2 separate regions of the Homo sapiens genome follow, and region 2 is linked to region 1. The links come from fine-mapping of genetic effects on gene expression. Tissue or cell type: lung. Region 1 holds a variant in brackets; the other region holds the start of a gene. All regions are shown on one strand. Distances are from middle to middle.

Evidence for each region. PIP is the estimated chance that this variant, and not a neighbour inherited with it, causes the effect.
Region 2: it holds the start of PFKFB1, and the variant in region 1 is the best candidate, but not a certain one, in a credible set for the expression of PFKFB1 in lung (TOPMed, PIP 0.83).

Annotation. Positions count from the first base shown.
Region 1 is chrX:55,014,696-55,017,457 of GRCh38, reverse strand. ALAS2 (5'-aminolevulinate synthase 2) reads left to right here. Exons shown (of 11, transcript NM_000032.5): 8 at 1,716-1,880; 9 at 2,443-2,711. Among named protein-coding and RNA genes, the nearest start is that of ALAS2, 15 kb to the left of the region's middle. RefSeq lists enhancers at 2,040-2,278, 2,040-2,442, 1,982-2,442. The variant C/T (reference allele first, on the strand shown) is at 1,382.
Region 2 is chrX:54,992,583-54,995,344 of GRCh38, reverse strand. PFKFB1 (6-phosphofructo-2-kinase/fructose-2,6-biphosphatase 1) reads left to right here and starts at 1,157. Exons shown (of 14, transcript NM_002625.4): 1 at 1,157-1,434. The coding sequence starts at 1,338.

The sequences.
Region 1 (2,762 bases):
TAGTGTTGGTCTCACAAAAACCATGATGATCATGATGATGATGATGACGATAACATTATAACAGCTAATATTTATAGTGTTTATTATGTGCCAAGCAAAATTATTAGTATTTTACATGTATTAATTCATTTAATTTTCTGAACAATTCTATGTGATAGGTGTTATTATTATTTTGATTTTTTACATGAGGAAACTGAGACATAAGAGTAATTTGTCCAAGGTCACACAGCTAGTAAATGCCAAAGAATGGAGGCAGCTATTACATTCATCTTATAGGTAAAGAAACTAAAGTTCAGAGTTGGCATCCAATTCATCTTGAGTGGCTCAGCAAGTTGGTGCTAAAGTGAGTATCTGCACCCTAACACATATAACTCCAATTCCTCGAGTAACACTTCTCTTGTTAGAAATGATATGTAAATCAATAATCCCAGTGTTTGGTTTTTATGAAGGAAATTTCAAAAACCATTGCCTAGGATTTTTTTCAAGGTCCAGTATGAAGCATTGGGGTCAAAACAGGTTTTCAAGTCAGAGAGACCTGGGTTCAAATCCCACCTTTGACAGTTACTGGCTATGACCATGGGTAACTCTTTAACTGTCTAAGCCTCAATTTTCCCAAAGGTAAAATATCTGGTTGTAAGAATTAGAGATGATAGAAACCATTCTAGTTATTATGCTTTAGTAGAATTAAATGATCTTCACACTCCTACCTCCTTTCTTTGCTCAATTGAAACAATGTCCAAAGCTTTCTATTGCTGGCCCTGTTGTGTAGAAATCATGTGTTTTAGGCATCCTCTTATGGATTTATTTAAGGGAAGAGGTCCTCAACTCATTTCAGTTTGTCCCTTTTCCAACTGAAACAAAAGAGTCCATAGTATTCCCTGATTTAGGTATCTTAAGTGGCATGTAATGACTATACACACAGGCTCTAAAACCAGACTATCCATGTTCAAATCCTAGCATGACCATTTACTAGCTTGGGCAAGCTTCTTAATTGCTCTGTGTCTCAGTTCTCAGTTGCTTATTTGAAAAATGTAAGTGATAATAATTAAATAGGTATGCAAATTAAATGAGTTAATATATGTAAGAAACTTACTATTATGCCCACTCCCACATTTCTAACACTAGCAATAAAGTAAAACTATCCTATCCCTTTTGTATATTTCTACCACTGAGACTATTCAAATTCATTATTTCTCTAGTGGAAACTATGTTGGTACCATTCTACCTCGTTACATTTGCAAATAAATAGTTATTTACCTATTTTTGGGGTGCAAACTCTGCCCAAACTGTTGATCCTTAGGCTGAATCTCTCCCATTGAAATGATGCTAGGCTGAACACAGCAGAAACAGGAAAATAGACATTGTCAGAATGAAGTAAAAA[C/T]AGAAAGACAAAGAGTCAAGCCTTGATCCCAGGCTGGGGAACACACACACATGCGCACACACACGTACACACACACACACACACACACACACACACACACACACACACACACACACAGAGAGACAGAGAGAGAGAGAGAGAAGGCAGGGATGAGATACAGGCAATCGATCCATACACAGAGGTTTGTAATAGTTCTAAATGAAGGCGCACATCCTCCTTCCTCTCTACAACACCCTTTTCCAACCCAAAGTAGGCATGTATGGGAAATTCCACATTGGAGATGGAGCTGGGGAAGGGTTATGATGTCCTACCTCTATCCCTTGGCTTTGCTCAGGTGCCATCTGTCCCCTCGAGGAGTTGTGTGATGTGTCCCACCAGTATGGGGCCCTGACCTTCGTGGATGAGGTCCATGCTGTAGGACTGTATGGGTCCCGGGGCGCTGGGATTGGGGAGCGTGATGGAATTATGCATAAGATTGACATCATCTCTGGAACTCTTGGTAAGTGAATGCTTTGGGCCTTCTTATATACCCTCCAGAGAGGAGGCCCTTACAAAATTCTTTTCTGCCTCCTCCCCAAAGCTATAGGGGTTGTTTGGACAGAATTCACAGCCCCAGGCTGCTGCCATCCTGGACTCCCTCTCTCCACTCGCATCCCACTGCAGAGTTGATGAGAAAGTCTGGTAGAGTTTTTTGAAAAGACCTTGAACTAGGCCAAATAGTTAGATTCAACTTGAGTATGTGAAGAGCTGTGTTTCTAAACCCCTCCCCCACCCTAGCCCCAAGCTTCATCTTAGCTCCACTCCTGACCCTATCCAGCTAAAGGTCCCCACCCAGCTCCTGCCTATCTAGTCATTGCATATGGCAAGACTTGAAAGTCCTATCTCAAAGCAGCAGAATTATCAGCTACGACTGCCTTGTCATGGACAGATGAGCAGAGGCCTGGGAAGACAGCCTGGAGCCCCAACTTCTGGTGCACCCCCTTGTGTTATCTGGCACATGATCCTGTTGCTCTGGGACTGATTATGGGATCTGTGTATATCTTATTCCTTTCTGTCTCCAGGCAAGGCCTTTGGCTGTGTGGGCGGCTACATTGCCAGCACCCGTGACTTGGTGGACATGGTGCGCTCCTATGCTGCAGGCTTCATCTTTACCACTTCTCTGCCCCCCATGGTGCTCTCTGGAGCTCTAGAATCTGTGCGGCTGCTCAAGGGAGAGGAGGGCCAAGCCCTGAGGCGAGCCCACCAGCGCAATGTCAAGCACATGCGCCAGCTACTCATGGACAGGGGCCTTCCTGTCATCCCCTGCCCCAGCCACATCATCCCCATCCGGGTGAGAGCCCCACCATGCCCATTGCCCTCTCCACCTATTTATTCTGGGAGC
Region 2 (2,762 bases), 22 kb after region 1:
AGGGATTGGAAATTTCTGTCCCCAAGAGATTGCCCTTGTGTAGCCCAGCTCAGTGGAAGAAAGTTGAGCTTCTTCATAGCCAATCGTTGGAGGTTCATTGGGGGTGGGAAGGTTGCAAAAGAGTGAAGTAAGAGGACACTTGTGCATCTTCGAGGCAAGCTGTGCAGTTCTATGAGTTATACACATAAAAGCCTCAAAACAACGGGTCAGGGGAGCGGGAGAGGGCAGGTGAGAGTGAGTCATCTGGGCTGGATGACTCTGGCCTATGGACTTGTCCTACTTTGAGGCCATTGCTCTCTGTTCCCTGCTGCAGCCTCCACCCTCCTAAATCTCCATCCTAATAGCTTGGCATGAGGAACTTTAGTGAAATTTTCTATCAGTTCATGATGCCAGTGTCATTCTCCTTAGGGCATCTGATGGTGGCTAACAGCCATGTGGGCAGAGCTTACCATTCCCCCACCTCCAGCCCCAGGCAATGGCTGCACTCTTCCAAAGGTGTCAGTTTACTCCTATTTATTTAGCCCTTGGCTGGAGAGAGTAGAAAGATGATCGGATAGTGCCCATCTCTTCAAGAGTGCTCCAGGCAGCACATTTCAGGTGGGAGAGGCCCTGTGGCAAGGAAGGCAGCAGAATCCAGAGAAGACAAGGGATGCAATGCCATTTTGGGTCGGGGAAGCAGAGAAGTAGTGGACCTTCCATGTCCAGTTTGGGCCTCTAATTGCCAGCTCAAAACACTGCATTCCCCAGTAGGGACTTTGTGTTTGTGTTTTTGTCCTTGGGAACCTTGCATTTCTGATGTGAATCTTGGTTTCTGGGTTGGAGCTTGACATTCTACTTGGGCCCATTTTTTTATTTCAAAGCTGGGAAAGCCGCTGAGACCTACCTCCATCACCTTTGCCTCTATACCCCACACAGGCTGTAAGCACATGATCTTTGGTCTTTTATTTGCATACTCTATTAGTCTTGTCTTCATTGGAGGGAAGTGACTGGTCAGACCTGGGCTGTGTTGCTGGCTGCCTTCCTTGTTGGGCTCCAACTTACCTCCTATGTACACAGCCCTTGGAGTTCAGAGGCCTCTCCTGACCTCTGCCCAACCTCTCGCCCTCTGCACCCAATACCCCACTAGTACATACAGGAGCAGAGGCAGGCTAGGACCAGAGGAAAGAAGAGAGGGGACTGAAGACAGACTTTGAGAGGGCTCAGAAACCCAGTACACCCCCTGTCCCAGCCCTGTCCACCTGCTGCTGTGGCCACAGCGAGAGAAAAGACAGCTAGTAAGATAGGAAGTGAGGCCAGGTACCTTGTGGGCAGTGATGTCATTCGGTGCGACTCCTAAGATGTCTCCAGAGATGGGAGAGCTCACCCAAACCAGGTTGCAGAAGATCTGGATTCCACACAGCAGCGGCAGCAGCAGGCTGCAACGGAGAAGGGGCTGTAAGTGGGGTTTGCTTCCGTGGGTTTAAAGGTGGTGGTGGTAGAGTGGGTGTAGAAGAGCAAAGGATGCACCTCCCCTTGCCATCCACTCCTACCTCAACCTAAAAGTTGGAATAGATGAACAACTGGATGAAATAGAGGCTAGTGTCAAAAACGTGAGGAAAAGAATGAGAGAGAAGACAGGCGGAAAGAGAGATGAAGACAAAGGAGGATTAGGTTAAGACCATCTTAATCAGAGGGATCTTTAGGAACTTTTCCTTTCTTATGCAGAGCTTGTTTGGAATGCTTCTTGTTTGGAATTTAAGATTTCTAGTTTAGGACTGTTCAGTGATAGCCTAGTATGTTTCATTTTGGTGACTTCTGTGAAGTGTCTGGGAGTTGGTCTTGCCTGACTGATAGTGCCTGGGTGAAATAAGGTGATGGCTCCTGGCATCATCTTTCAGGGGACAGGTGCTGGGTACACAACAGTGCCATGTCACTGGTCAGTATTGCTCCTCTCCTTTCTCAGGCCTTTTCTGAGTCTATACCTGCCTAGGTTGGGAAACACTTAATGTCCTGTCTCCAGTGTTGCCTTCCTGGCACATATGGACTTCCTTGCTGCTCTGGAAATTTGAGAGAGGCAGTCTCTCAGGGCCAGCCCACTGGTGTGGTGCTCACTTTGGAAATTTAAGAAAGATCAAGGGCAAAACAAAACCTGTACATATTTAAAACAAAATCTGGAGTGTACCATTTCCCATAGATAACAGGCGACAGTGGTGGACCAAGGTGCATCCAGCCCAGGGATTGTGGCCTGAGTGGCCATAAGGTGGGTTAAGATAAGGCAGCTGTGGACTGTGGGACTCAGACACCCCAAAGGCCAGCTAACCAAGTTTCCAGTCTGCTAATGCTAGAGGAGGCCCAGGCTTAGGGATATTGGGGGTAGCAGTAGTTGCTTAGAGGATCTAGGAGCATATAGGATGTTAAATATAGTTATAATATACAGGAGGTAGGGTGTGGGTGGAGGAAGAGAGAGAAAAAAGACTAGGCTCCTATTCTCTCTCTTTCTTATCTCCACCAGCTCTCTCACTCACTCATCTGGAGATCTAGGAGCCTGGAGACTGAGAGGTACCCTCGCCCAGCCAGCCACTCTTGGCCTTTTCCAAGGGGCTGTTTAGTTGACAAACAAGCAAGCCATTCTCTGCATACACGGGTCCTCCAGAGCTAGAATGCTTATAGTCCTGGGAACTGTGTCTTTCAAGTTGGAGAGATAATATACATAAATCACCTAATATAGTCTCTATCAAATAGAAGGTGAAAAATAAATATGTGCTTACTTTTGTTTGGAGTGT